Linked DNA regions of Homo sapiens. The main gene of each other region encodes a partner of the protein of the gene in region 2 in a complex. Each region holds a gene or a part of one and is shown on either strand. Other genes may lie near its edges. The genes, in order: FZD8 and LRP5.

Region 1 (15,641 bases), on a different chromosome or scaffold from region 2:
AAAAGAAACTCCTGAACATGTCTACATAGGTATATAATAAAAAATATTCAACACTAAGTGTACTCATGAAAATGTGGAAGTGATCACACTATTCATTAGTAGTAGAGTAGATTATATAAAGTGTGGCTTATTCTTACAATGGAATACTACAATCAGTTAAACATTTTCAACCAGATCAATATTAAGCAAACTTTTGAGTTTATAAAGCTATTTATAATCAGAACTTAAACATAGATATTTTATGTGTTTATAAGTTATAGTTTTTTGCAAGATTTTGTTTGGAAAAGAGAGTTCCACTTTTCCACAATGTTTAAAAACTGTGATATAATAAGTGGCCATGGAATTAGCTTCATCTGTAAAACATAACCCTTAAAACCTATCTTGGCCAGGCGCAGTGGCTCACACCTGTAATCCCAGCACTTTGGGAGGCCAAGGTGGGCAGATCACCTGAGGTCAGAAGTTCAAGACCAGCCTGACCAACATGGAGCAACCCCGTCTCTACTAAAAATACAAAATTAGTCGGGCGTCGTGGCACATGCCTGTAATCCCAGCTACTCGGGAGGCTGAGGCAGAAGAATTGCTTGAACCCAGGAGGCGGAGGTTGTGGTGAGCCGAGATTGCCCCATTGCACTCCGGCTTGGGCAACAAGAGCAAAACTCCGTCTGAAAAACAAAGCAAAATACAAAAAACCTATCTTGCATACCTGTCATAAGGCTTAGACATTGTAAATACATAGAGATGGAAACAGAGATCAAGGTAGATAAAGTGATACAGTCATGGGGCAGATTGTTATTGTCTACCCAAATCCACCTCCACTTCCCTTCTTTTCTTTTTTTCTTTTATTTGTTTATTTATTTCTTTATTTCTGATAGGGTATTGCTCTGTTGCCCAGGCTGGAGTGCAGTGGCACAATCACAACTCACTGTAGCCTTAAACTCCTGAACCCAAGGGATCCTCCGGCCTCAGCCTCCTGAGTAACTGGGACTACAGACATACACCACCATACCTGGATAATTATTTTTACTTTTTGCAGAGAGAGAGTCTCATTATGTTGCCCAGGCTGGTCCCAAACTCCTGGCCTCAAGCGCTCCTCCTGCTTCAAGCCTCCCAAAGCACTAGGACCACAAGGGTGAGCCACCACAACTGGCCCCTTTTTTATTTCTTATAACCCTTAATTTTATTCAGGTATTCACCCTCCTCCACATGGTTAGGTACTTCAGAGAAAGATGAACTAATTCCCAGCTCCAAGCATAGGGTAACCTGACTTAAGCCCATTGTGGTCATCCCATTCTTCCTGCCCATGATTAGTTTAGGGATGAGAATTCAAACTGATTCTACCAATGAAAGCTGCCAGGAGACTGCTGGGAAGAGGCCAAAATCCTGCCACCATCTTTTGACTTTGAGGTCACCATGGGTAAAACCCCTGAGGGGGACAGGGCAGAGAAACAGAAGGAACCTGAATCCTTGATGACGTTTTTGAAAATCTGTATCTATCAACCTGGAAAACTGCCCTACTTTTGTAAGATGACAATTTGTTTTGTAAGATGACAATTTCCATCCTGCATGAGCCAGTTTGAGTTGGATTAACTGTTATTTGTTGCTGAAACATCCTACATTATTTAAAAAGAAAGAAAAAGAAAAAGAAAAGAAAAGGGAGCAGGGGGCCAGCCCAGAGCCTAGCGCATAAAAGACCTGCTGTCATCCATGGCAGCTGAGATCATTATTCTATGCCACCTCCACTCATCCAGTCTCCTCTCTTGCCATCCTCCAATACATTAACAATATAACGCAGATCAAACTACTTTCCATCCTCATTCTGGTCACTCTTATTCTTAAGCAAAGCAACTATTCCCTATAGTTACCATTAGCATATATTCCAAACTTCATTTTTTCTAAGTACAGTTTTTATTGCTGACTTGGGAGATTTAGGAACAAGGGTGATATTCACCAGTCTGCAATTATGAATTATAGGTTAGGATTCACTCGGTTTAGTTATACCTACATTTTTACTCTAATAAAAAAAAATCAGGATGTACAATTCCAATAGATTACCTTCCAGCAGAAACCTTGGGTATTTGATTACCACAAGACAACCAAACTCCAGTAGAATCCTAATAGAAAATGAATCCTTTCAGATTTTTGACAGGTAAAACATCAGGTGAAGTTTTCTGTCCTTTTATTTTCAGATTGGAGGACAAGACCAAGAAGTTAACAAAATTAAGAGACAATGCCACAGCACATATACAGATAGACATCTTTTTCTGAATAGGAATCCAGAGACCACATGGATCACAGTGGAAAACATAATGAAGCCGGGTGCAGTAGCTCACGCCTGTAATCCCAGCACTTTAAGAGGCCAAGGCAGGCGGATCACTTGAGGCTGGGAGTTCAAGAAGAACCTGGGCAATGTAGTGAGACTCTGTCTCTAAAAAAAATTTAAAATAAATAAAAATAAATTTTAATTACCCAGGTGTGGTGGCATGCACCTGTAGTCCCAGCTACTCATAAAGCTGAAGTGGGAGGATCTCTGAGCCCAAAGTTTGAAGCTGCAGTGAGCTATGATCACACCACTGCACTCCAGCCTGGGCAACAGAGCAAGACCCTGAAGACCTATCTCTTGAAAGGAAGGAAGGAAGGAAGGAAGGAAGGAAGGAAGGAAGGAAGGAAGGAAGGAAGGAGGAAGGGAGGGAGGGAGGGAGGGAGGGAGAGAAAGAAGGAAGGAAGGAAGGAAATGATTAATAATCAGCAGCGTGATAGACCAACAAGTAAAAATATGAATCCTTCCTTTTTAGCCCCCAAGGTAGCAGGACATCCTATCACCAACTTAATCAAGGAAAATATCCTTCACCATGAGCAATGTTGCTTGCTAAGGCAGAGACTCTCGAATGAGGGTGAAAGCAGGAGTGTAATTGTAAGGCTGGGCACGGTGGCTCACGCCTGTAATATCAGCACTTTGGGAGGCTGAGGTGGGCAAATCACCTGAGGTCAGGAGTTTTAAACGAGCTGGACAACATGGCAAAACCCCATCTCTACTAAAAATACAAAAATTAGCTGGGCCTGGTGGTGGGTGCCTGTAATCCCAGCTACTCGGGAGGCTGAGGCAGGAGAATCATTTGAATCCTGGAGGCGGAGGTTGCAGTGAGCCAACATCATGCCACTGCACTCCAGCCTGGGTGACAGAGTGAGACTCCATCTTGAAAATAAATATATAGCCAGGAAGGTGAATCTGGTTCAGCTTGGGTAGCATAGGGGAATCCCCTGGTAGAAAATCCTGTAGTAACAAGTCCAGCAATCACATTCTACCAAAAGCTTGTAGGGAAGACTTAGTAAGCCAGGAGCTTCCCAAACGAGCACCTACCAAAAAAAGACAATTACCATGTTCAAAACAGAAATGACGCTCGAACAAATGGCTCCACATACCTCCAATATCTTCCAGAGAACAGAGAATGATGCAAAAATAAGATCATGTACAGAAAATAAGATGGATACTGCTGGAGGAAATATAAAGAACCAATAAACTGTAGAACTTTCAAAAGGGCATAGTTCTGTAGAAACTGATTTGTTTAGGGACATTAGCTGCAAAGAACTGGATATACCCACAGACTGAGACACCACCTGGTCCCCCTGAATTCTATGTTCTCTGTAGGTTCTTGGAAGCTGTTATTTACTCAACCCTCTGAGGTTCTGGAAAACATACAGGTGAGAAATAAATTTTCATCTCTGGCAGTCCTTATGCTTCCTAGCTGTTTAGTAAGGTGTTCCTGCATGTAATTACCCCACAGGGAGTTTGTGGGGAGACAAGGACATGAGCAAACATACAAACCACCCAGCTCGTTCTGCTAGACAGAGTCATTCTTTAACCTGGCCTCGTCTAGAGGCCCTGCAGGCAACTGGATTTCTTAAAGCGGGAAAGTACTCTTAAGCAAAGCAAGTTGTTCTGTAAGCAAAGCAAGTTGTTCTGGTGAAATAAATAACTAGAATCTTATTAGCAGATCCCACCTGCATGAAGTTATGGGGAAAAGAGGAGGAGAAAGGACTTAAGTTTTGTTGTTAATTAACACACGAAGAGCATATGAACCTGCTTCAATGACCACTAGGCTATAAAGCATCTGACCTTGGACAGCAGAAGTTAGTTAGACACAAAGAGATGGGGGCCTCTTGTCATGTGGTGCAACAGTCCCTAGGGTTTGGGGCAGACACCCTTGGTGACCTACCCAAGGCGACCCTACCCTTCTTCCTTACTAGCAAAACCCCGATTCTGTCCAAGTGACCCCTCGTGGTCAGGTCAGGCAGGGCTCAGTGATGTGACTTGTCACCCAATTCTGAACCATGAGAAATAAGAGAAAATCAGTTCCGGGAAAGCCTTCTTGGCACTGAAAATGAGGCACGAGAAGAAGAATGTCCCTCTTTGTGCCTCTGAACATTGGCATGTGAAGATGTGAGCTTCAGTCTGTAACCACTCTGTAATCATGAGGGCAACAAACCAACCTATCAGGCTGACAGAGAAAAAGATGGAAAGAACCCATCTTGATAACTTGTGGAGTCAGAGAATTAGCCAACTTCGAAGCCAGCCCACCTTCAGGTCTCGGGTAATGCAAGGTAAATATCTTTTCAGGCTTCCTGTTACTCCAAGTTGAAAAGATTGTAATAGATACTGAGCTCTATAGACTCCAAATGTAACCTATTTAAAGGTATGAATTATATCAACAGATTGAATACAAATAAAAATATTTCTGTCCAAGGAAAACTCTTGCTGTTGCATTAACAGCAAAGGCAGAGGCAATTTCCTACCATTGTGATTTGTCAGTGCTTTCTCGTGTGCCTAGAATTCTGCTCCTCTTCTCAAATAAACTTCTGATCATTCTTCAAAATTCCTGTGAAGTCCTTTCTTAGCTCTGTTAGGGACATTCACATGTTCCCTAATACTATTTCCGTGTACCATGTAAATATCTACTGAACAGCACTGGACTCATTCACCTGTGACTGTCCCATGTGAGTTTCCTGTAGAAGACGTAATGTCTTACTCATCTTCACATCCTTGCACTTAACAAAGGGCCTGGGACTCGGTTAGTGTGGCAGTTTTTAAATATGATCCCCAAATATTTGGCATTTCTTCCATTTTGTGGTAGGTCCATGCCCCTGCCTTTGAATCTGAGTGTGCTCATACCATCAGAGTGGGGCGGAAGTGATGCTGTGTGACTCTGAGGAGATGTCATATAAAGGGGCATGCAGTATTCACCTGGTTCTCTTAGGATGCTCGCTCTGGGGAGTGCCCCACCCCCCCAACCCCCTACTGCCATGTAAGAAGTCCAACCACTCTGAAGCTGCCATGCTGGAAAGGTCACGTGGGTGGCTCCAGGGGACGGTCAGCATCAACAGGCCACCACAGGAGTCCCCCCCAGCTTGGTTGTTTAGCCCCCTCAAGCCTTCAAATGACCCTAGTCCTGTGGACAGCTGAGTTCAATGGCAGGACAGGCACCAAGCAAGAGACCTGCCCAGTCAAGCCTTTCCTAAATTCCTGACTCTCAAAATTAGGAACAAAATAAAATGGTTGCCTTGAGCCACCATGTTTTGGGATCACTGCTGTACAGCAACAGGAACCAGAACAGTTGGTACTAAGTAAATATTTATTGACTTTACTTTGAACTCATTCTAAACTAGAATTTTTCAAACTGTAACTTGCCAGACAGTGTTTTAAGACAGCAGGCCCAGAGTTCATATTTATGTTGTGATACTATTTCAGTAAGCTGAACATATTAATGCATCATTTTTTTCTTTTATCTATATGGTATCATTTTACTACAAATTATACTTCTGTATACTATAAGCTTATCCCTATAGAAGTACATTTGCTTCTAAGAGCAACCAAGACTCATACAAAAAAAAACAAACAAAAAACAAATGCTGTCACCTCTAGAAAAAAAAAAATGCTGTGTTTACCTGAATCCAGTCAAAGATAGACTAAAATAGAAAGAAATGCCTTTGTCATCCCTACCATCTCCATGTCCTGAGTGCCCTAATAATTATAATTTGCATTACTGATGGAAAATTTTATCAGTAAATGGTGGTTTCAGACCACCATTTAAAATGGATCATTGTTACCAGACATAAACCCTTGCCTGGACCAATTTTTTGATATAAAGCTTCCTGCACATTCATAAGCAGTTCAGTTGGAATTCAAAAATTTCCCTTGCATTATATTTAAATTAGTCAATACAAAAAAAAAGTTATTCAGAGCATGATGTAGGCTTATTTTAAAAATAATAAAAACTTTTGAAAAATGAAAACAAACAGGCCAGGCCTGGTGGCTCACTCCTGTAATCCCAGCACTTTGGGAGGCCGAGGCAGGCAGATCACTTGAGGTTAGGAGTTGAAGACCAGCCTGGCCAACATAGTGAAACCCTGGCTCTACTAAAAATACAAAAATAAGCCGATCATGGTGGTGAGCACCTGTAATCCCAGCTACTGAGGAGGCTGAGGCAAGAAAATCGCTTGAACCTGGGAGCTGGAGGTTGCAGTGAGCCAAGATCACACCATTACACTCCAGCCTAGGCAACAGAGTGAGACTCCATCCAGGCAAAAAAAAAAAAAAATGAAAACAAACGAACAAAAAAGTTATATGGACAAACTAACAAAATGTTTCATGGATAGGCTTAAAAGAAACACAGAAACTAAAACTCCAGAATTGCATCAATGTTTTTTGTTTGTTTTTGAGATGAGGAGTCTCACTCTCTCACTCTTCTGGCCCAGGGTGGAGTGCAGTGGCATGATCTCGGCTCACTGCAACCTCTGCCTCCCAGGTTGAAGTGATTCTCCTGCCTCAGCCTCCCGACTAGCTGTGATTACAGGCACCCACCACCACGTGCAGCTCATTTTTGTATTTTCGGTAGACATGGGGTTTCACCATGTTGGCCAGGCTGGTCTCGAACTCCTGACCTCAGGTGATCCACCCACCTTGGCTTCCCAAAGTGCTGGGATGGCAGGCGTCAGCCACCGTGCCCAGCCTGTGTCAATGTTTTTAGTTAAGTCTCCAAATGGGAGGGGGAGTTCTGAAGAAAAAGGAAATAGGGAGTGAGTTCCACTACAGTGAATGCACACTGCAAATAAAATGCGCTGTAAACTGCTTGACGTTTATTTCATACTAAATGTACAAAGAACTGTATTGTGTGAACTTCAAAAAAAAAATGTAGATCTCAAGGTTTTCTTGGATCTAGATCATGCTTAATTTATAACCCTGCATAAATTCCGCTGTAAGACCAGGGAAGTTGACTCAATGGTATTGCTTGGAAGTTCACTGCTTTCACACAGTAATGTGCATCTGACACTGTGGGTTGTCCCTCCTCCCCTTCCTGGCTACCAGTGTCCCCATCAACAGCCACTCTCCAGATCCTCACTTTCACAGCCTCTCTTGCAGCTAAGAGTGGCCAAGTGACAGATTCAGACCAGGTTGCCCAAAGGGGAAGTTAGCCAAGGGCCTTCAGGGAAAGGCTGTCATTCCTAAGGGAAGAAAAATATCATAGCAGTCCTCCAGCCCTGGCCACAGTCCAATGTGACAATTCAGTGGTGGGAGGCCCCCTGTAACCAAAGGGGAAACCAACAGTCTAGAAGCCAACCTGCAGCCCTAACCTCCTGGAGCTGCAGAAAGAACTGACGGTGAAATGTCTGCTTCTAGACTTATTGATATGTTGAGATGTCCTTCTTGGCTAAGCCACTTTTACCCGGGAGGTCTTTACTGGACCTGAAATCTACCAAACTAATGCACAATGCATGCCATAATAAGAGCTTCAATATCTGGCAAATATTCCCATGTGGATGAGAAAAAAAATCAATTATTGATTTTTAAAACAAATTTTAGAATAATTATCAACTTAAATAATGGCAGTGCGGTCGCCGTATTCCAAAGCAGCAGCTGCATGTAAAGTGAGCATGGGCCTGCCAGCCAGTGGCACAGGTGGGCCTGTTATCTCCATCCATGTGCACCTTGGCCTGGTGACAGCAGACACAGCAAAGAGTACTTCCTTCCAACAGGATCTCTTTCCTGGCAGTGGAGAGAACAGAAGCAGCAGCACTTCAATTGAGTTTCATGTTAATAAGGAAGAATATAAAAATAATCTCACCTGTTTAAAGCTAGCAGAGATTGATGAGGCCAGTTCACCTCTACCTCCCCTTCCATTTATGGACTGAGAGACTCAAGACATAACCCTTTGAAAGGCAGATTTTTAAAACACCAAGATGCCCCAATATTACCATTAGAGGTTTTGTTATTGTTGTTGTGGGTTTTGTCTTTTTTTTTTTTTTTTTTTTTTTTTTGAGACAGGGTCTCTTTCTATTACCTAACCTGGAGTACAGGCATGATCACGGCTCACTACAGCCTCAAACTCATGGACTCAAGCGATCCTCCCACCTCAGCGCCTCAAGTAGCTGGGACCACAGGTGCGTGCTACAGGCCCGACTAATTTTTTTTTTTGTTTTAGACAGACTCTTACTGTGTTGCCCAGGTTGGAGTGCAGTGGCAAAATCTCAGCTCACTGCAACCTCTGCCTCCCAGGTTCAAGCAATTCTCTTGCCTGAGTCTCCCAAGTAGCTGGGATTACAGGCACCCACCACCATGTCCAGCTAATTTTTGTATTTTTGGCAGAGACAAGGATTCCCCATGTTAGCCAGGCTGGTCTCGAACTCCTGACCTCTAGTGATCCTCTGACCTCGGCTTCCCAAAGTGCTAGGATTACAGGCGTGAACAACCACCGTGCCTGGCCTTGTTTTTTTGTTGTTTTTTTTGTTGTTGTTGTTGTTTTGTTTTTGGTTTTTTTTTTTTTGGTAGACTCGGGTCTTACTATGTTGCTCAGACTGCTCTCCAACTCCTGGCCTCAAGCGATCCTTCCACCTTGGCCTCCCAAAGCACTAAGACAAACGTAAGCCACTGAGCCCAGCCAGTGATAAGAATTTTATATTATCTAATAATATAGTACTTAACTGTTTTCTTGAGAGAAAATAATATTTGGCATTTATTTATTTAGAGACAGGGTCTTACTCTGTTGCCCAGGCTGGAGTGCAGTGATACAGTCATGGCTCACTGCAGCCCCAGCCTCCAAAACTCAAGTGATCCTCCCACCTCAGCCTCTGGTGTAGCTGGGACTACAGGCACATGCCACCGCACCCAGCTCATGTTTGTATTTTTTGTAGAGACAGGGTTTTGCTATGTTGCCCAGGCTGGTCTCGAACTCCTAGACTCAAGCGATCTGCCTGCCTCAGCGTCCCAAAGTGCTGGGATTACAGGCATGAGTCACCGTATCTGGCCAATATTTGGCAGTTTATAACACCTGAGAAATTGTATTAGTTACCAAAGAGTTCCTCATTTAATCTTTGGAACGTATCATTCTGTTAGTATATGCCAGGCTCTCTCTTCCATCCAGATTCTTATATTGGATTTTTAGATGGTAATCCACTGGAACATGATTTCCCCAAAGTTTCTTAAATTTGTTACAGACAGTATTGATAGTCCCCTGTCTAACTCGGTAGCCAACGTTTTGTAAAACCTTCCCTCCTCTGAGGTAGATTCCTGATTCCAACTGTTTACATTATTTGCTTGCAGGCCATTCAGCAACAAGCCATCTGCTCAGAAATCCCTTTAGAAACTTCCCTACATTATTTATGTCACTACTAAAGCTATTTCCCCTCCCCTAAAAAACAGCTGCTTTACATACAATGAAAATATCATTATTTAGCCATAGAAGTTGATATATGTTCTGGTTACTTCTAGGTAACCCATCATTACCTTTTACGCACTAATTGGCTACAGAAGTCTCTCCCTTCTCTGAAAGACTACCAAGTAGCCGTTTAATTTAACAGTAGATGTAAAATGCGATTCTTATATTCTCTCAATTAAAAGTACATTTGTCATGACTTTTATGTAACTGGTTTTAACCTCACAAATCACTAAGATCTCCCAAATAGCTGATATGATTTTTGAAATTCTGAACTTCAGTCTGCTTATTTTCTCATGCAAACTTAACATACTTACCCAAAATTTCCACATTCCACATCATCAAACTTTTCATCTTGTCTCAAAAGAAAAAAGAAAAAAAATTTAAAGCCAATTAAGAGCCAAAATCAACCATTTTCAGCTTCAATTTCAATTTTCAAATGTCAGTTTGTTTTTACCCAATTCTAGCAAATTTATGTAGTGTAATTCTAAACTTCACTATTTGACATTTCCCCGTGGAAGAAAAGCAACAGAAACTTTTCACCATCTGTGTTGCTCTTGGAAACCAGCCCCTCCCATCTGTGGTGCGGGCAGTGCAGCACCCTTGCTGGTCTTTGGGGCTCTGCCTGCACCGCTGCCCTCAGATCAGCACTGGAACCTCTGGCAATTACCTGCAGCTGATGCGTTCTGGAGACTCGCCCTCTGGAAACAAGGTGCCAACCGCAGAGATAGTGAATTTCTACATTCAACATACAAGTGGGAATTCCGATTTGCAGGAGGTGAGAAAAGAAAAAAAATTTTTTAATCAAGTAAAGGTCTAGTCTGTATTTTTGAATAGCCCGTTTTCTGCTGAATCAGCTAATATTTCTGAAGCCTTTGAATTCCGAATTCCTACGGACTTTAGTTTTTCCAAAACAAAAGTGGGAAGGAAGTGTTGTTTTTCAGTATAAAGAGGTTCAACTCTATAGACTAAAACTAAAAAAGTTAAAAAGATAGGGGGGTATAACTATAGATTGGTGGATATGCCTAGAACACAGAACTTGCCAAAAACGGGGCGCTGGGGCAGGGTGCGGTCTGACAGTCTACTTGTAATATGTTTCATAATGAGGTTGCTAACTGAGCTACAGAAAGCAGGAGGAGGAAGACATAGATGCCATCAGCTCAAGCAATCTACAAATACTGCTGGTTATTTTTGTTTTATGACAAGAGTTGTTTCTGAACGGACAACCACGAGCTACCACCACCACCAGCAGCGCCCCGAAAACCGGAACTGGCCTCAAATGTACTTTTAATTCTTTTGCTCTGTCCCCACGCCCTCTGCAACTTTTGTTCTCCAACTGTACTTGTTCCGGTATGAAACCTGGCAAATAGCAAAAATCTTGAAACAAGAAGAGAGTGAGAGAGCGGAGAGAAAAGGGAGGGAAGGAAGGAGAGGGAGGAGGGGAAGAGGAGGAGGGGGGAGAGAAAGTGGTGGGGGAGAGAGAGAAGGAAAGGAGGTGGGGAGAGAGAGAGAGGGAAGACAGAAGAGAGGCAGGGAGGAAGAGGGAGAGAGGGGGACGGAGATGGGGAGGAGGCGGGAGGGAGGGAGAGAAAGAGAGAGAGAAACATATTCTGCCACCCTCCTGGCTAACTGAAATGCTTGTTCCCGAGATTACAGTAATTACTGCCCCAGCATGAGTTCCATACAAGCGCTAAATGAAACAGCACATCAATTAAAAAATAAACACTCCATTCTAGGAGAAAGACAGCCCCCTGGGACGCCCTAACAAGCGTAAATGAACCTGCCAGGCCGCCGGCCCGGGCCGCCCGCAGCCCCCCTCCCGGCCCGTCTTAAGGTGGCGGCGGAGCCGGCGGGGGCAGCGTTCGCTGGCGGTGGCCCAAGCGGCTGCTAAAAGCAGCCCGGGTCCGGCTCCGGCCTCGTGCAGAGAGCAGATACGTGTCGCGGAGTCCACGCCAGAGCGCAGCGCCGCCTCCCACCAGAGAAAAGGAGGCTCTGGCAAAAGCCTGTGAACTTGGGATGGATGAATAGACGTCCTGAAAGAACGAAGGGAAGACAGGGAATCCAGCCCCAGAGTTTCCAGCCTGTCCTATTTATAAGTTTCGAGGTTTGTTTTGAATTTTAGAAAGAAATTGAATGATTTTTCCTAAGAAAGCACGGCGGCTCGGGGCTTCCTATATTTTATCTCACCTAATTATCAAAGCCCCCTTGGAGATCTGTGCTATGATCACCCAACTCTCTAGGTGGGGAAACTGAGGCTCCCCCAGGTCACGCAGCGGAGGCGGGAGGAGAGTCTCTGGCGGGCATTTGTCCCCCGCGCCCCTCGCGCGCCCAAGGCTGGGCTCCGGGGCATCTCACCCGGGCCGTCCCGGGTCCAGCCCCAGTTTAGAATGACTCCACACCCCCCACATCTCCAAGTCTCAGAAACCATCGTTCTGAGAACCCCAAGGAGGACACCCTTTCCCGGGTCTTCTGCAGCGCCGAGCCCCGGCAGGCCTCCCCGGCGCTCGCCTGCTGCGAGACCTTCCTGCCGCCCCGAGGAGCACGAGACCCCAGCCGCCTGCAGATCACCCACATTTGCGGAGGGTGGCAGCAGGGGCTTGGCTGGTTTGAAACGCGCCGGGGAGGCGCGCGCTGCACCAAACCCCGTCCCTGTCCCCAAGGGCAGACTCGGGGTAAGGGGACCAAGACCTCCGACGCACTCAGCGCCATGGGGACAGCCATGGCCAACACTCTGTCTCTGCGGTCAATCCCAAGGTTACCAAAACTCTCCATCCGCAGAGAGCGCGCACAGCAGTGCGGACACTCGGGGACTGCCTTAAGGAAGGCTGAGCCCTGGGAGCGCGTGGACTCCGCCCTACCGCCCGGCGATTGGCTCGCGGGGCTGGGGGCGGAGACCGAGTCCGCGCTGTATAAATATTCATGAGCCGGCAGCGCGGCGCGAGCGGGGCTGGAGCCGGGAAGTTGGGCTAAGGGCGCTGCTCCCGCCGAGGAGGAGGCGGCGGCTGGGCGCGGGCCGCGCCACTCAGGTGTCCGCTCCGCCTTCCGGTCTGGATTTGCTCCTGGGTGTCCAGCAGGAAGGAGACTGTGTGCACCTCGCCCGACTGCGGCCGGAGCGCGGCGCTGACTTTTCCAGGCGGCGGGGGTCCGTCTGTCCCGGCGGCGGACGGACGAAGGACGGACGCCGGAGAAAGAGGGCGGCGGCCTGGGCCGAGGCGGGTCCCCAACTCCGGCGGCGGCGGCGGCGGCTTGGCCTTGGGGGCGGGCATGAGCCCCCGGGGGCCGAGTGGTGGCCGCCAGGGCTGACCCGGCGCGGCAAGCGGCCCGGCCCAGCCATCTTGACTGCGCACCGCGGCCCCAGAGGAAACTTGCGGCGCCTCCGCCCTCTCTGTCCGGCGGAGTCACCGCCGCCCGGCGCGGCGGGGAGAAGTGGTCGGGCGCGCGGAGAGGAGGCGAGCGAGCGCGGGACGATGAGCCGAGGCCCGGCCGCTCTGCGCCGCGAGGGCTGAGCGCGACCCGGGGCCAGCAGAGCGGACCTACGGACTGTGGCGCGCGCCTGCAGCCGCCTTCAAACCCCCGGAGCGGCGGAAAGGAGTGCGGAAGGGCCCTGCCCAGGCTGCGGGCCGCGCCGCTGCGGACGCGCCCCTAGAAGGGGTTAGATTATCGGCAGACCCCCCTCCCGGGCGAAGCATAAGGGAGACCCCAGATCACCCGCTGTACCCGTCTGCGGCTCTCTCGTGGGCCCCCCCCCCGGCACCCCTCTGCGCGCCGCCTGGAGGGCGAGGGCACCGGGCCGAGGCGCACAGCATGGAGTGGGGTTACCTGTTGGAAGTGACCTCGCTGCTGGCCGCCTTGGCGCTGCTGCAGCGCTCTAGCGGCGCTGCGGCCGCCTCGGCCAAGGAGCTGGCATGCCAAGAGATCACCGTGCCGCTGTGTAAGGGCATCGGCTACAACTACACCTACATGCCCAATCAGTTCAACCACGACACGCAAGACGAGGCGGGCCTGGAGGTGCACCAGTTCTGGCCGCTGGTGGAGATCCAGTGCTCGCCCGATCTCAAGTTCTTCCTGTGCAGCATGTACACGCCCATCTGCCTAGAGGACTACAAGAAGCCGCTGCCGCCCTGCCGCTCGGTGTGCGAGCGCGCCAAGGCCGGCTGCGCGCCGCTCATGCGCCAGTACGGCTTCGCCTGGCCCGACCGCATGCGCTGCGACCGGCTGCCCGAGCAAGGCAACCCTGACACGCTGTGCATGGACTACAACCGCACCGACCTAACCACCGCCGCGCCCAGCCCGCCGCGCCGCCTGCCGCCGCCGCCGCCCGGCGAGCAGCCGCCTTCGGGCAGCGGCCACGGCCGCCCGCCGGGGGCCAGGCCCCCGCACCGCGGCGGCGGCAGGGGCGGTGGCGGCGGGGACGCGGCGGCGCCCCCAGCTCGCGGCGGCGGCGGTGGCGGGAAGGCGCGGCCCCCTGGCGGCGGCGCGGCTCCCTGCGAGCCCGGGTGCCAGTGCCGCGCGCCTATGGTGAGCGTGTCCAGCGAGCGCCACCCGCTCTACAACCGCGTCAAGACAGGCCAGATCGCTAACTGCGCGCTGCCCTGCCACAACCCCTTTTTCAGCCAGGACGAGCGCGCCTTCACCGTCTTCTGGATCGGCCTGTGGTCGGTGCTCTGCTTCGTGTCCACCTTCGCCACCGTCTCCACCTTCCTTATCGACATGGAGCGCTTCAAGTACCCGGAGCGGCCCATTATCTTCCTCTCGGCCTGCTACCTCTTCGTGTCGGTGGGCTACCTAGTGCGCCTGGTGGCGGGCCACGAGAAGGTGGCGTGCAGCGGTGGCGCGCCGGGCGCGGGGGGCGCTGGGGGCGCGGGCGGCGCGGCGGCGGGCGCGGGCGCGGCGGGCGCGGGCGCGGGCGGCCCGGGCGGGCGCGGCGAGTACGAGGAGCTGGGCGCGGTGGAGCAGCACGTGCGCTACGAGACCACCGGCCCCGCGCTGTGCACCGTGGTCTTCTTGCTGGTCTACTTCTTCGGCATGGCCAGCTCCATCTGGTGGGTGATCTTGTCGCTCACATGGTTCCTGGCGGCCGGTATGAAGTGGGGCAACGAAGCCATCGCCGGCTACTCGCAGTACTTCCACCTGGCCGCGTGGCTTGTGCCCAGCGTCAAGTCCATCGCGGTGCTGGCGCTCAGCTCGGTGGACGGCGACCCGGTGGCGGGCATCTGCTACGTGGGCAACCAGAGCCTGGACAACCTGCGCGGCTTCGTGCTGGCGCCGCTGGTCATCTACCTCTTCATCGGCACCATGTTCCTGCTGGCCGGCTTCGTGTCCCTCTTCCGCATCCGCTCGGTCATCAAGCAACAGGACGGCCCCACCAAGACGCACAAGCTGGAGAAGCTGATGATCCGCCTGGGCCTGTTCACCGTGCTCTACACCGTGCCCGCCGCGGTGGTGGTCGCCTGCCTCTTCTACGAGCAGCACAACCGCCCGCGCTGGGAGGCCACGCACAACTGCCCGTGCCTGCGGGACCTGCAGCCCGACCAGGCACGCAGGCCCGACTACGCCGTCTTCATGCTCAAGTACTTCATGTGCCTAGTGGTGGGCATCACCTCGGGCGTGTGGGTCTGGTCCGGCAAGACGCTGGAGTCCTGGCGCTCCCTGTGCACCCGCTGCTGCTGGGCCAGCAAGGGCGCCGCGGTGGGCGGGGGCGCGGGCGCCACGGCCGCGGGGGGTGGCGGCGGGCCGGGGGGCGGCGGCGGCGGGGGACCCGGCGGCGGCGGGGGGCCGGGCGGCGGCGGGGGCTCCCTCTACAGCGACGTCAGCACTGGCCTGACGTGGCGGTCGGGCACGGCGAGCTCCGTGTCTTATCCAAAGCAGATGCCATTGTCCCAGGTCTGAGCGGAGGGGAGGGGGCGCCCAGGAGGGGTGGGGAGGGGGGCGAGGAGA
Region 2 (15,224 bases):
GACCATCCTGGCCAACATGGTGAAACACCATCTCTACTGAAAATACAAAAATTAGCCGGGCGTGGTGGTGGGAGCCTGTAATCCCAGCTACTTGGGAGGGTGAGGCAGGAAAATCACTTGAACCCAGGAGGTAGAGGTTGCAGTGAGCCAAGATCACACCACTGCACTTCAGCCTGCGCGAAAAAAGCGAGACTCCATCTCAAAAAAAAAAAAAAAAAAAAAAAAAGGGTGCACAGCCAGTGTGTGCTGCTGTCTGTAGGATGAAGCTGAACCCCCAGGAACTCCCACGGGAGAAAGGTCGCTGAGCAGAGCACAGAACCAACAGGATCCAAGGCCACCTGGAGGCATGGGGGCATAGGAGAGAAAGCCCTGGACAGGCTTCACTGTGGTGAGGATACAGATGGTCACTTTATTACTACTGCCACACCCATGGCATAGCAGCTGGCATTCCTGTGCATCACGTGTCAGGGTCCAGGTGGAGTGCCCTGTTACTTGATGCCCATGACAGCCTGCCAGGTAAGTGCTCTCAATTTCACAGAGGAGGAAGTGGAGGCTCACAGAGATTCAGGCACCAGCCAGGGTCACTCAACTGGGAAGTGACAGAGCCAGGATTTGAACCCTGGCCTCTTTGGCCCTAAAGTCCAGGTTCTTCACTACCCCACTCTCCCACCACTAACACCAGGAAGCCCTAGGGGGAGAAGAGGATCAAGGGTAGAAGGAGAGAAAAAGATAGAACTACTAGGAGAAATAAACAAATCCACCATTAGAGTTGGAGACTCCACACCCCTGTCAATAACTGACAGCTCAAGCAGGCAGTCAGGAAGGAAGGATAGAGACAACCTGATGAGCACTATTAACCAACTGGATCTAATTGATGTTTCTGGAACACTCCACCCAACAACAGCAGAATCCACATTCTTTTCAAGAGTACACAGAACATTCACCAAGATAAACTGCATGATGCTGGGTGATAAAACACACCTAATGGCCAGGCACAGTGGCTCACGCCTATAATCCCAGCACTTTGGGAGGCCGAGGTGGGCGGATCACGAGGTCAGGAGTTCGAGACCAGCCTGACCAACATGGTGAAACCCCGTCTCTACTAAAAATACAAAAATTAGCTGGGTATGGTGGCGTGCACCTGTAATCCCAGCTACTCAGGAGGCTGAGGCAAGAGGATCACTTGAACCCGGGAGGCAGAGGTTGCGGTGAGCTGAGATCGCGCCATTGCACTCCAGCCTGAGTGACAGAGCAAGACACTGTCTCAAAAACAAAACAAACGAAGCAAAACAAAACAAAAAGACACAAAAACAATAACAACAAAAACACCACACCCAACACATTTAAAATAACAGAAATCATATAAAATAAGCTCTCAGACTACAGTAGAATTAAATTAGAAATCAGTTGCAGAGAGACAGCTGGAAAAGCCCCAACTCTTTAGAAACTAAGCAACACTTCTAAATAACACATGAGCCAAAGATGTCATCTCAGGAGAAGTGTAAAAATATTCAAACTACCTGAAAATGAAAATGTAACAAAATTTGTGAGATGCAGGAAACGCAGTACTTAGAGGAAAATTCATAGCACCGAATGCACATAGTAGAAAAGAAAGGAGGGCAAAGGAAGACACAATCAGCTTTGGAAACTGGATGCCACAGGGACTGTGATTTTAAAAGGATGCCAGGCAGCAGCCTAGCAGGCAGAGAATCAGGTACCTGTCCATCACCCCAAAGGAGCACCTAGGTCACACCTACCTCCACAGGTCAGCAGGTTCTGCAGGAGCACGAGGTGGACTGGGCATGAGCACCGTGGTGTCCCATCACCCTTGGCAATACAGATGTGGGAGCAGCCACCATTGTCACGGGCACATGGGTGGGCTGCTGCAAAGACAAAACAAGACAAACAGAGGTCAGGCTCTGTCTCCCACCTCAGAACCACAGCCTGGAGGGTAGGGGCCAAATGAGAACTCATGAGAACTGGCCCTCCTGCAGGCCCGGCCTCTCTGGGAGGATCCTCCCACTTATTCCTCTTGGCAGCCTACAGAGTCTTCCTACTGACACGGAAATTGACACACAAATGGATGCCGGAAACAATTACAGAAGTTGCTTGACATCACAGGCCAGCCTGTCTGCACCAGTCTCTACTGTGCCCATACCATCAGTCTGAACTGCCCACTTGTCTCTCCTCCTATTTACTTACTTTGAGACAGGGTCACACTCTGTCACCCAGGCTGGAGGGCAGTGGTGCGATCATGGCTCACTGTAGCCTTGATCTCCGTGGGTCGAACAACCCTCCTGCCTCAGCCTCTTGAGTAGCTGGGACTACAGGCATGCACCACCATGCCTGGCTTTTTTTTTTGAGACAGAGTCTTGCTCTATCGCCCAGGCTGGAGCGCAGTGGCATGATCTCGGCTCACTGCAAACTCCACCTCCCGGGTTCATGCCATTCTCCTGCCTTAGCCTCCCAAGTAGCTGGGACAATAGGCACCTGCCACTGTGCCTGGCTAATTTTTTTTTTTTTTTTTTTTTTTCACTTTTTGTAGAAATGGGGTCTCATCATGTTGCCTAGCTACTTGTAAACTCCTGGGCTCAAGTGATCCTCCCGCTTCAGCTTCCTAAAGTGCTGAGATTACAGGCGTGAACTACCACACCTGGCCCTCTTCCCGTCTTTCATTGTATAAGGGGTTGGATAGTGCCCCCCAGAAAGATACACCCATGTCTTAAGGCCTAGAATCTGTGAGCATAACCTTTTTTTGGAAAAAGGGTCTTTGCAGGTTAAGGATCTCAAGACGAGGTCATCTCGGATGATTTGGGTGGGCCCTAAACCCAATGACAAACGTCCTTATAAGAGGCAACACAGACAAGAAGAAGAGGTAAAGACGCAGACACAAAGGAGATGGACACATGAAGATGGGCAGAGGTTGAGGCGGCGCATCCACAAGTGTGGAACGCTGGCACCCACAGCACTGGAAGGGCCAACAAATAGATCCTCCCTGGAGCCCCCAGAGGAAGCACAGCCCTCCCAACAGTTTGGTCGCAGGCTTCTGGTCTCCAGCACATTGGGGGAATCCATTTCTGTTGCTTTAAGCCATCCAGTTTGTGGTCATTTGTTACAGCAGCCGTGGGACACTAATACACATGGGAATTAAAATAGCAAATGGTGCCAGGCGTGGTGGCTCATGCCTGTAATCCCAGCACTTTGGGAGGCCGAGGTGCGTGGATCACCTGAGGCTAGGAGTTGAAGACCAGCCTGGGCAAAATGGCGAAAACCCGTCTCTACTAAAAATACAAAAAAATTAGCCTGGTATGGTGGTGGGTGCCTGTAATCCCAGTTACTTGGAAGGCTGAGGTAGGAGAATCACTTGAACCTGGGAGGCAGAGGTTGCAGTGAACCGAGATCGCGCCACTGCACTCCAGCCTGGGCGACAAAAACGAAACTCCATCTCAATAAATAAATAAATAAATAAATAAATAAATAAAAAAAATAAAATAAAATAAAATAAAATAAAATAGCAAATGGACCAAGTCCCTGGGAACTCGCGTTATTCTATCCAGTTAACCAAATGTGTCCAACACCCGGACAATGAGAAGAAGAGGAGGCAGCTTGGAGGGAGAGCTGACCACACCCAGGTGGAAGAAATGACAGAAGACGCTCTGTTCCCTGCCCCACCCAGAAAAATTTCACAGTGTCCTTACTCAGTCTCAAGGATTCAGTGTTCGGTTTTTTTGGGATAGGGTCTCTTTGTCACTACCACCCCTGGCCCTTTTTTTTTTTTGAGACGGAGTCTCACTCTATTGCCTAGGCTGGAGTGCAGTGGCGTAATTTTGGCTCACTGCAACTTCCGCCTCCCAGGTTCAAGTAATTCTCCCACCTCAGCCTCCCCAGTAGCTGGGAATACAGGCGCCTGCCACCACACCCAGCTAATTTTTGTATTTTTAGTAGAGACGGGATTTCACTATGTTGGGCAGGCTGGTCTCGAACTCCCAACCTCAAGTGATCAGCCCACCTTGGTCTCCCAAAGTGCTGGGATTATAGGCATGAGCCACCAAGCCCAGCCTGGTCCCTTTTTGTTTGTATTTTTTGTAGGGATGGGTTCTCACCATGTTGCCCAGGCTGGTCTCAAGTAATCCTCAGATGGTTACCATGGAGGGGAGGAAGGACTGTGGTCCCAGCTGTGGAGGCCCCTCCCCCAAGCCCTGGGACACAGCAAGGCAGTGGCAGGCAGAATCCTAAATGACCCCGTAATTTCCCACCCCAGTCCCCAGCACGGCGTCATGACCTTATGTGGCAGAAGGGATTCTGCAGATGTGATTAAGGTTATTAATCAGCCGACTTGGAGTCTATCAAAGGGGAGGCTAACCTAATCTAAAGGTGGCTGAGCCGAATCACAGGGCCCTTTAGAAGCAAATCAGAGAGACTCAAGGTGTGGGAGGGACTGACGCAGGGAGCCCCCACTGCTGAGGCAGAGAGGGCCACGGGGCAAGGACCTGTGGTGGCCTCTAGGAGCTGAGAGTGGTCCCCGACCAATAACCAGAGAGAAAACAGAACCTCGATCCCACAACTGCTACCTGCTGAGTGAGCAAGGAAGCTAATTTCTCCACAGAGCCTCCGCTGAGGGCCCAGCGTTCCTGACACCTTGATTCTGGCCCCGTGAGACCCTGAGCAGAGAACCCAGGTGAGCCACGCTGTGCCTGGACTTTGCCTTACAGAACTGAGAGACAATCCGTGGGTGTTGTCAGGCCAGTGGCTCACACCTATAATCCTAGCACTTTGGGAGGCCACAGCAGGCAGATAGCTTGTGCCCAGGAGTTGCAGACCAGCCTGGGCAACATGGGGAAACCCCGTCTCTACAAAAAAAAATTAGCCAGGTGTGGTGGTGCCCACCTGTAGTCCCAGCTACCTGGGAGGCTGAGGCAAGGTGTTCACTTAATTAAGCCCAGAGGTCGAGGCTGCAGTGAACTGTGTTTGCACCAGGGCACCCCAGCCTGGGCAACAGAGCAAGATCCTGACTCAAAAAAAAAAAAAAAAAAAGAGTTGGTGTTGTCTTAAAACGCTGTTCGTGGTGATTTGTTCTGCGGCAAAAGAAAACAACCTCAGAGGCCTCGGGACATTCGGACATGTCGCTGAACCCCAGCGGGCAACAGTTGGCATCTGGCAGAGACCACCGCCTGGCTGAGGCCACACAGGATCTTGCACTGGCCTCCAGCCTCCTCCAGGGGTCGGGTTTAGAGGCCACCCTGCCCACCCCACTGCCAGCCCCCACGTACAGAACTCCTCCAGGCTGACTTCCTCCACTGCATGGATGCCAGTGAGGTGGGCGACACGGCCCTGGATGCGAGTCCGCTTGTCCCCGGTGGTCTTCTCCACACGCTCGATCATCTGCTGCTGGCGGTCGATCCAGTAGAGATGCTTGCCAAGGATGGTCAGGCCCAGAGGCTGCACGATGTTGGCGTCCTCCAGGGTCAGGCGGTTGGCCCCTGCAAGCAGCCCGTGGGCCCCCCTGAGCAGTGCTGACCTCCAGAACTTGCCCCACACTCAGCTTGGGAGGACAGAGGTTGACAGGACTGCCAGGGAGCCTGGGGGATTCCATGCTTTGGACAGGGGTGGGAGCTGCAGCAGAGTCCCTGGAAGCAGGCCGACCCAAGACAAGCCCTCGGAAAGCCCTGCTCCCACCTGGGCTGGGCTCGGGATGAAGGCCATCAGTTCCAACGGCGGGCCTCGGTCACTGGCCCCTGCAAGCATGGCCCCTCCCTTCACCCATCTACCTCATCATAAGAGGAAAAGCCATGGGGACCTGCGCCCCCTCTCTAAGCACCAACTCTCATTTCTCTCCAGCCCTCGCAGCCTAACACAGTCCAGAGCAGAGCAGCTTCTTGCGCAGGTGCTGGGGGCAGAGGCTAGGCTGCAGTCCTGCTCCATCTCCTGCTGTGGGGCCCCAAGCAGCTCGCTCACCCTCTCTGAGACTCATTTTCTGCCTCTGCCCTGTGGGGCTCACTCAGAACCCCAGCCTACAGCTGTCAGTGTGAGGACAAAACACGCTACACACAAAGCCCCTGGCGCGGCACTGGGCTCACGGCAGGTCTCGGACAATGTGGCAGCTGCTGCCATTACTGACAATGAAGGCCGGGTGTCTGCGGTTAGGGCAGGCCCCGGGGCGCGTACCTGACAGGTCACAGCTCTCAATGCGCTTCAGGTCCGCGTCCACCCAGAACAGCTTGCCCAGTGTGTTGTCCACCACCAGGGCCACAGGGCGGATGAGGCCGGTGGTGAAGAGGACCTCGCGCTCGGTGCCGTCCAGGGCTGCGCGTTCGATCTTGGCTGCCCGGTCCTGCATGTTGGTGAAGTACAGGTACCTGCGGGAGGGTGGCGGGTGAAGGACGGGTGTGGGGATGGCGTCTCCTCGGACAGCACGGAGCCCAGGGCACCCAGCTGGGCTGTGGAAAGCCCCTGCCTCTCAGGGCTGCCCGAGGCTGACAGGTCACATTCTATACTAGTTGAACAATGCTCTCCAAATTCCCGCTCACCCCAGAACCTCAGAATGTGAGCTTATTTGGAAGCAGGGTCTTTACAAATGTCATGAAGGATCAAGATACGACCACAATGGGTGAGGGTAGGCCCTAAATCCAACTGAAGTGTCCTTCAATGGTACAGAAGAGGCCACGCCATGTGCAGCCAGACAGAGAGACTGGAGTGACAGGACCACAAGTCAAGGGGTGCCTGGAGCCACCAGAAGCCCAAAGGTTCCCTCAGAGCCTTCAGAGGGCGCAGGGCCCTGCCCACACCTCGATCTCGGGCTTCAGCCCTCAGGAACTGTGAGAGAACAAGTGTCCATTACTCTCAGCCACCTGGCTTCTGGTAATTTCTGACAGCAGCCATGGGAAACAGGTGCAGGCCCCCCACAGCTGCTAAGGACCCCGGAGCCCTGGCTGTTGGGAGACCAGCTCGGCTGGCTCCTGCACAGCCGCCTTATAGACCCGGGGCTTCCGCCCACCGAGCCCCCCGTGTGCTGCAGAGGCCGCACCACTGTGGCCGTCACTCCTACCAATGAGGAAACTGAGTCTCCAAGAGGCTATGCCACCCGCCCAAGGTCACGTGGCCAGTAAGTGACAGAGTCAGGGCTCAATCTCTGGGCTCCCGGCCCAGGACCTGTGCTGGCTGTAGCTCCCGTCTTCATGCCAGCCCCCCAGCTATCTGAGGAAGGCCATCGCGCTCCTGTCCCCAAACGTTCCCGTGCTCAGTTTGGAGCCTGAGTTTCATGTCACATGGGTTTCGGTCTCCCTCTTTCCCTGGCTTTTCTCTCTGGAGACCTCAAGGTCCTGGGTGCCTTCCCACCAACCAGAAGCTCTGACGACCAACAGGTGGGAGCGTCGGGGGCCTCTGGGAGGAAGAAGCCCAGGAGCTCCCTGTGGTGGAACAGGAGCGAGTCAACAGGCAGCCCCCATGCCGTGGAAGGGATTTCTGCACAGGGTTCAAGTTTAACAAGGATGATACAAAACCTATCAACTGCAACTCCCGTCGGCCAGCGCTGCCTTGTAACCTCTCAGCAGAGCTCCCCCTTCCCTTCCAGCCCTTGGGGCTTTCTGCTTTCCTGGAGGGGCTGTGAAAGAGCCTGTGTTTGCTTTTGGGACCCTGGAAAGCCACCCATTGGATCCCCAGGGTGGAAAGTCTCCCCAGCCTGTGAGAGGCTGGCATTCGGCAGAAGACACGGCGGGCACGCCTGGACGGGCAGCACCCCCACCCACCCGTTGGCCTCCTACCCTCGCTCCGCGTTGACGACGATGGCCCTGGGCTTGTCGCGGTCCCCACGCAGCACCACCCCCATGGCTTCCCCGCTCAGCCTGTGGACGTTGATGGTATTGGTGGCCTCGCACGTCCAGAACAGTGTCCGGCTGTAGATGTCGATGCTGAGGTCGTGGGGCTGCCTGTCTGGGTTTTGGCCTTGGCTCAGAGAGGTCAAAACAAAGGGCTGTAAGACAAAGAAACCAAGACTCCTGAGCACTGGCGGAGACCCCTGGGCACTGGCGGAGACCCCTGGCACTGGCGGAGACCCCCGGGCACTGGTGGAGACCCCCGGGCACTGGCTGGAGAGCCCTGGGCACTGGCTGGAGAGCTCTGGCAGGACAGCAGAGGCCACACTTCTCAAGTTTAGCCTGAAAGTCAAATCCCAGTATTGGTGTGGGGGTCTCTCCTCTCCAATCAGCTCCTAACTACGTGCCCGCCTGAGTATGCCAGAGCGATTAGGACAACAGCCTCTGGAAGAGCTCTTGCCGCCTCGGACTTTAGGCCTCCTCAGCCACCCGCCGGGCACCCAGCTGTGCATCACTAGACTGGCGCTCCCATGAAGGCCCCATTGACAGTCGAGAAGGGATCCAAGACCATGGGGCCCTTCCCAACACATCCCTGTCTCCTCCACCTTCCAGGACTCAAGCTTTTGGACTGCGGCCCTCACGTACTGTTTTCTCTGCAGGGCACCAGGACAGACAGTTTGGGGGCCGCCCCTTACAACCCCTTCCCCAACGGAAGGAGGCCAGGTGAGGGGAGGGCAGGTGAGGGTGGGGGTTAGGTGAAGGTGGGGGACAGGTGAGGGTGCAGGGGCGGGTGAGTGGGGGAGGTGAAGGTACAGGGGAGGTGAGGGTGGGTAGGGAAGGTGCGGGTAAAGGGATCGGTACAGATGTGGGGGTAGGTGAGGCTGGGGGCCAGGTGAGGGTGGGTAGGGGCAGGTGAGTGTGGGGAATGACTCAGAGCCCCTCTTGGGAAGGCAGGGCAGCCACGTCTCTCAGTGACTCTCAAGGACTCTCCGTCTCCACACTCTCTGGGGTCACCGTCCAGGAGATGCTCGAGCGCTGCCTAAGCCCAGCCCACCCTGTGCATCTCAGGGATGAGCCTGGGCTTTTGGGGCCTCCGACACAGCATCCCTTCGAAGGGCTCTTACTGAGCTGACGTAGGAGGAGAGGACAGCCCAGAAGCCTACTGCCTGCGGGGATCTGGTTCCTTTGGGTTACCCTGAAAGACAGCTGCATCCAAGTTCCCGAGTGATTTGGCCTGGGGCAAATGGGGCCTGGAGCACCTGGGCTCCTGCCACCCAGGCCTGAAGGAAAAGCTCCCCTCCCTCTCCATTGAGTCAGAGGGAATCATCTTAGGATGGTGCTCTGATAGTAAGTCTTTTCAGACTTTCTTTATCTAGGTCTTTCAGCAGTTAATAAAACAGGGAGACAGCAGTGGCTCACACCTGTGATCCCAGAATGTCGGGAAACTGAGGTGGGAGAATCACTTGAGTTCAGGAGTTTGAGACTAGTCTGGGCAACATAGCAAGACTCCATCTGTATCAAAAAAAATTAAACCAACCAAACAAAAAAAACAATAGCTCAGTATGGTGACGCACGCCTACAGTCCCAGCTATTCAGAAGGCTGAGGTGGGAGGATCGCTTCAGCCTGGGAGGCCGAGGCTGCAGTGAGCTATGCTCATATCACCATACCCCAGCCTGGGTGACAGAGTGAGACCCTGTCTCAAAAAAATACAAATAAAACAAAGTCTCTAAGTAGATAAAAAGAAGCGTCTTCCCCAGGCCCAGTCTCTTGGACCCAGATGGAAAGGGTGCCTCCCCCATACACACACACACACCACACACCACACACACGCGCACACACACACACACACCCCACACACACACACCCCCAGATGGAAAGGGTGCCTCCCTCCCCCATACACACACACACACCACACACACACCACACACACACACACACACACACACACACACACACACAGCCTTGCTGGGCAGCTGCAAAGACATCATCACTTTCATCTGGACACGAAGGATCATGTGTCTTTGTAGATAACAACATCCACATCACTACAGAGCTGTGGACCCTAGGGGGCCATGTGTCAAAGCCAACTGAACAAATTCCTTCCTAAAAGCCACTAGCTGTGGACCCTGGACTGGTACAGCTGCCGGGCTGAAAGACAAGCAAGATTCCAGCTACCCTGGCCAAAATCAGGCTCACCGTGGAGGGTGGGTCTGTGGGAACCAGATGCAAAAACAGACTTTGGGACAGCAGTCTGGAGAACCACCATCTGAGAAACGTGTACTGTGTGACGTGACACCCTGGCCACACTCCTCCCGGGCACAAAAACAACACAGCAAACTTTACGCGGCTGGCCAGTTTCATAAACCCTGAACTCTTTTTTTTTTTGAGACGGAGTCTTGCGTGAGACAGAGTTTTGCGTGAGACGGAGTCTTGCTCTGTTGCCCAGGCTCGAGTGCAGTGAAGCGATCTCGGCTCACCGCAAGCTCCGCCTCCCGGGTTCACGCCATTCTCCTGCCTCAGCCTCCCAAGTAGCTGGGACTACAGGTGCCCGCCACCACACCTGGCTAGTTTTTTGGTATTTTTAGTAGAGACGGGGTTTCACCATGTTGGCCAGGATGGTCTTGATCTCCTGACCTCATGATCCGCCCGCCCTGGCCTCCCAAAGTGCTGGGATTACAGGCGTGAGCCACCGCGCCCGGCCCCTGAGCTTTCATTTTAATGTAGTACAAATACTTATGGTTAGTGCAAACTTTCTTACCAGAATCCTATGCAACACCACAAACACGCCTTTTCCTCACTAGTACAAAACCTTCACCACGGAAGGAAATGTTCATAGTGGCCTTATTCACGACAACCAAAGGTGGAAGAAACCTAGCACCCGTGGATGGATAAATAACAAGAAGTGGTCCGTCCATCCATCCGATGATTTTTTTTTTTTTTGAGACAGGAAGTCTCACTCTGTTACCCAGGCTGGACTGCAGAGGCACAATCTTGGTTCACTGCAACCTCTGCCTCCCGGGTACAAGCGATTCTCCTGCCTCAGCCTCCTGAGTAACTGGGATTACAGGTGCGCGCCACCACACCCAGCTAATTTTGTACTTTTAGTAGAGCCAGGGTTTCACTATGTTGGCCAGGCTGGTCTCAAACTCCTGACCTCAAGTGATCTGCCCACCTCGGACTCCCAAAATGCTGGGATTAGAGGGTGTGAGCCACCGCGCCCAGCCTTTACAACGGGTTATTATTCAGGCTTTAAGGAAGGAAATTCTGACACAGGCTATAACACAGATGAACCTTGAGGACACCATGTCACATGAAAGAAGCCAGTCACACAAGGGCAAATATTGGTATAATTCCACTTACATGAGGTACCTAGAGAAGGCAGAGAGAGATACAAAGTAGAATGGTGGCTGTCAGAGGGAGATGAGGAGTGTGTTCAATGCGGACAGTTTCGGACATCTGCCGAGAAGGTGAAGTAGTCTGGAGATGAATGGCAGTGATGGTTACCTCGTGAACTGACTGAATGCCACTGAACTGTCAACTGCAGAATAGGTAAAATGGGCTGGGTGCGGTGGCTCGCGCCTGTAATCTCAGCACTTTGGGAGGCTGAGGTGGGTGGACTGCTTGAGTCCATTTCAAGCCCAGCCTGGGCAACATGGTGAAATCTGTCTCTACATAAAATACAGTTAGCCAGGTGTGGAGGTGCACAACTTGAGCCTGGGAGGCGGAGGCTGCAGTGAGCCAAGAGCCCACCATTGCACTCCAGTCTGGGTGACAGGGCAAGACCCTGTCTCAAAAACAAAAAAAGGCCGGGCACGGTGGCTCACACCTGTAATCTCAGCATTTTGGGAGGCCGAGGCGGGCGGATCACCAGGTTAGGAGTTCAAGACCAGCCTGGCCAACATGGTGAAACCCCGTCTCTGCTAAAAAATACAAAAATTAGCCAGGCATAGTGATGGGCACCTGTAATCCCAGCTACTCGGGAGGAGGCTGAGGCAGGAGAGTCGCTTGAACCTGGGAGGCAGAGGTTGCAGTGAGTTGATACCACGCCACTGCACTCCAGCCTGGGCGATAGAGTGAGACTCCATCTCAAAAAAAAAAAAAAAAATTAAAATGGCTGGGTGTTGTGGCTCATGCCTGTAATCCCAGCACTTTGGGAGGGTGAGGTGGGAGGATGGCTTGAGTCCAGGAGTTGAGACCAGCCTGGGCAACATAGCGGGTCTCTACAATAAAAAAAAAATACAAAAAATCAGCCAGATGTGGTAGTGTATGCCTGTAGTCCCGGCTACTAGAGAGGCTGAGGTGAGAGGATCACTGGAGCCCTGGAGGCTGAGGCTGCAGTGAGCCATGATCGCACCACTGCACTCCAGCCTGGGCACTGGGGTGAGACCCTGTCTCAAAAACAACAATAACAAAACAATTAAAATGGCAAATTTTATGTTATATATATTTACCACAATAAAAAATAAAAACAATTAATAGAAAACAAAACCTCGGCCAATTGGATGATAATTTAGACACCATCTTTTGGGGGAGCAGGGGGACTCCTAATAAAGAATCAAAGCCAGAGTCCACAGAGCGGGGAGGCTGCAGGAGGCTGGACCTTAGCAAAAGACACAGGAGGGGAAAAGCACATTTTCCAAATTAAGTGGAAAACCTTCTGGGTTTTCTTCCAAGTCTTCATCACTTCTGCCTAGCAGACACCATAAAAGAACGCAGCTCCAGTGAAACTCTAAGGCAATGTACGCCCAGGAGCTTTCTCAGCATGGGAGCCACATCCATCAATTAACACGTCCCTCTCTCCAAAGGACTCCACGTGACAGTCACCTGTAGCAAGCAAGATGAAAGGAATCCATTTCCACCACCCACACCACAGCAGAGGCAATGATCACAGCTGCCCAGGAGAGAAGCTCCAGGGAGCCAGGCATGGCTCTGAATTTCAATTCGGCTGACTTTTGCCATCAACCAAGGACACAGACCTCACAGTACAACGTAACTAGAAACTGCTGCGGGAGGAAGGATCTGGTGGAAAGGGGCGTCCAGCCTGTCTGGACGGCACCAGCCTTCAGATGGGGAGCACAACAGCGAAACCGACGGCGGACATGGCGACCCATGTGAAAGTCTCTCCAGGCGCTCAGCCTCTCTCTGCCTCAAGAAAGTACCAAGATTTCACCACAATAACACAAGCTCCCACACCAACACTCGGTGGAGAAAGAGGCCGTGTGGCTCTGTAGGTTTTTTTTTTTTGAGATGGCGTCTCGCTCTGTTGCCCAGGCTGGAGTGCAATGACATGGTCTCAGATCCCTGCAACCTCCACCTCCCAGGTTCAAGCAATTCTGCCTCAGCCTCCCGAGTAGCTGGGACTACAGGCGCGTGCCACCACACCCAGCTAATTTTCGTATATTTAGTAGAGATGGGGTTTCACCATGTTGGCCAGGCTGGTCTTGAACTCCTGACCTCGTGATCCACCCACTTCGGCCTCCCAAAGTGCTAGGATACAAGCGGGCTCTGCAGTTTTTGTAAAAGAAGGCTGCTTAGGAGCCAGGCCTGTCCTGGAATTCTACACTAATGAACCTGTTGTGCCCCATGCTGCAGACTCCAGGTGGGCCTGAGGCCGCCGTGAGCACATCATTTGTGGAACAGGCCACACAAGCCTGACTCCGCAAAGTGCTCACTTCCGCTACAGCACTTGTTTTTCTATTTTTTATTTTTTGAGATGGAGTTTTGCTCTTGTTGCCCAGGCTGGAGTGCAATGGTGTGATCTCGGCTCACCGCAACCTCTGCCTCCTGGGTTCAAGCAATTCTCCTGCCTCAGCCTCCTGAGTAGCTGGGATTACAGGCACCCGCCACCACACCCAGCTGATTTTTGTATATTCAGTAGAGACGGGGTTTCACCATGTTGGCCAGGCTGGTCTCGAACCCCTGACCTCAGGTGATCCACCTGCCTCGGCCTCCCACAGTGCTGGGATTACAGGTGTGAGCCACCGCGCCCAGCCTAGCAGTTGTTTCAAAAATGCAAATCTGGCCGGCCGCGGTGGCTCATGCCTGTAATCCCAGTTACTCAGGAGGCTGAGGCAGGAAAATCACTTGAACATAGGAGGCAAAGGTTGCAGTGAGCCAAGATCATGCCACTGCACTCCAGGCTGGTGACAGAGTGAGACTCCATCTCAAAAAAAAAAAAAAAAAAAAAAAAAAAAAAGCCAATCTGTTCCAATGCAATGATGTATTAGGACAATTTGAGCACAGCACGGTTTCACATTTGCTCATGCACAATTTCCTCCACGAGAAACATTAAGTGAATGCAAAAAACTACAGCCGGCAGGGAACTGCGCAGGGTCACACCCACACACACACCTCCGTCTCTGACCTCCCTGGGCTCACTGCTGGGGCCATGACCCACTCTTCTCCACGCCTGGGGTGAGAACTTTCCATTTGATTTCCCACAATCCTCCTTCCAGTGTTTCACAAAAACTCATGCGCTACACCCTTCCACACTCATAAGCCAACTCCAGATCTTCCCAAGGTGAAGTGCCGTATTTATTGCAGCATTAACGTTTACGAATGCACAGTATTGTGGGATATAGCTAACCATTTAATGTGCAAAAGGCACTTTGCTATTTCCCAGGTTCCTCTCTTTTCTTACATGTCATTGATGGAGATTTTGAGGGCTGTGCCCTGGCCCCGCTTTCCCTATGAGTTGTGTCATTTTTACTGTGCGATTTTGCATAGGTGTCTTTCAGAAGAGCATATACAGCATTGTAGCAGAAATGACTGTACAGTTCCCACAAAATAAAGGATAAACCTGGATTAACCAGTACCAACTACCCCTGCATGACACACGACCATTTTCTTTCTTGAAAAGACAAAAGTCCTGTGGGGTCTGACCCCACCATGACTACTTAAACAACGGGGAAACCCAGTTTCTACATATAATCACAGTCTCGGGGTTCCACGCATCTCAGGGTCATACCCTGTGACTACATAATCGAAGCCCAAGTCATCATTCACCCAGAGCCATCCTCTGTTTCCTCCCTCTGCTAAGGACAGGGGCAGCAGCCTGGAAACCAGCAAGAGGAGCGCCTTGGGAAGCACACCCCGCACCCTTCCCACAGGGCACCTGCCTGGGTCCCGTCGTCCTTGGCTCGCTTGATGTTCTGGCGCCCATCCACCCAGTAGATGAACTTGTCCAGTGGGTCATAGTCGATGGCTTTGACGTTCCTCAGTCCATGCAGGGGCAGGATGAGATCCGGGCTGTGCTGGTCGTCCGGGATCATCCGACTGATGGCAGATTTCTGGCTGAACAGCAAGAAGGTGGTGGGCGCTAGAGGAGGCAAAGACAGGGCTGCAGGTGGGTGTCTGTAAGCCACAGAGGAGCTGGAGGACGGGATAGCACGCCACTCGACAACAGGCGGCTC

What was found.
Region 1: LRP5 (region 2) and FZD8 share a complex: the UniProt entries of both Homo sapiens proteins name them as parts of the wnt-signaling complex.

What each region holds. Positions count from the first base shown.
Region 1 is NC_000010.11:35,639,297-35,654,937, reverse strand, and holds the start of FZD8 (frizzled-8 precursor), read left to right. Parts: upstream 1-13,210; 5' UTR 13,211-13,508; coding exon 13,509-15,593; 3' UTR 15,594-15,641. Other genes in the region: zinc finger protein 469-like, read left to right, coding at 12,092-12,308, 12,525-13,210. UniProt on the Homo sapiens protein: Receptor for Wnt proteins. Component of the Wnt-Fzd-LRP5-LRP6 complex that triggers beta-catenin signaling through inducing aggregation of receptor-ligand complexes into ribosome-sized signalosomes.
Region 2 is NC_000011.10:68,416,234-68,431,457, reverse strand, and holds part of LRP5 (low-density lipoprotein receptor-related protein 5 isoform 1 precursor), read right to left. Parts: intron 15,131-15,224; coding exon 14,931-15,130; intron 7,970-14,930; coding exon 7,761-7,969; intron 6,357-7,760; coding exon 6,166-6,356; intron 5,481-6,165; coding exon 5,271-5,480; intron 1,884-5,270; coding exon 1,758-1,883; intron 1-1,757. UniProt on the Homo sapiens protein: Acts as a coreceptor with members of the frizzled family of seven-transmembrane spanning receptors to transduce signal by Wnt proteins.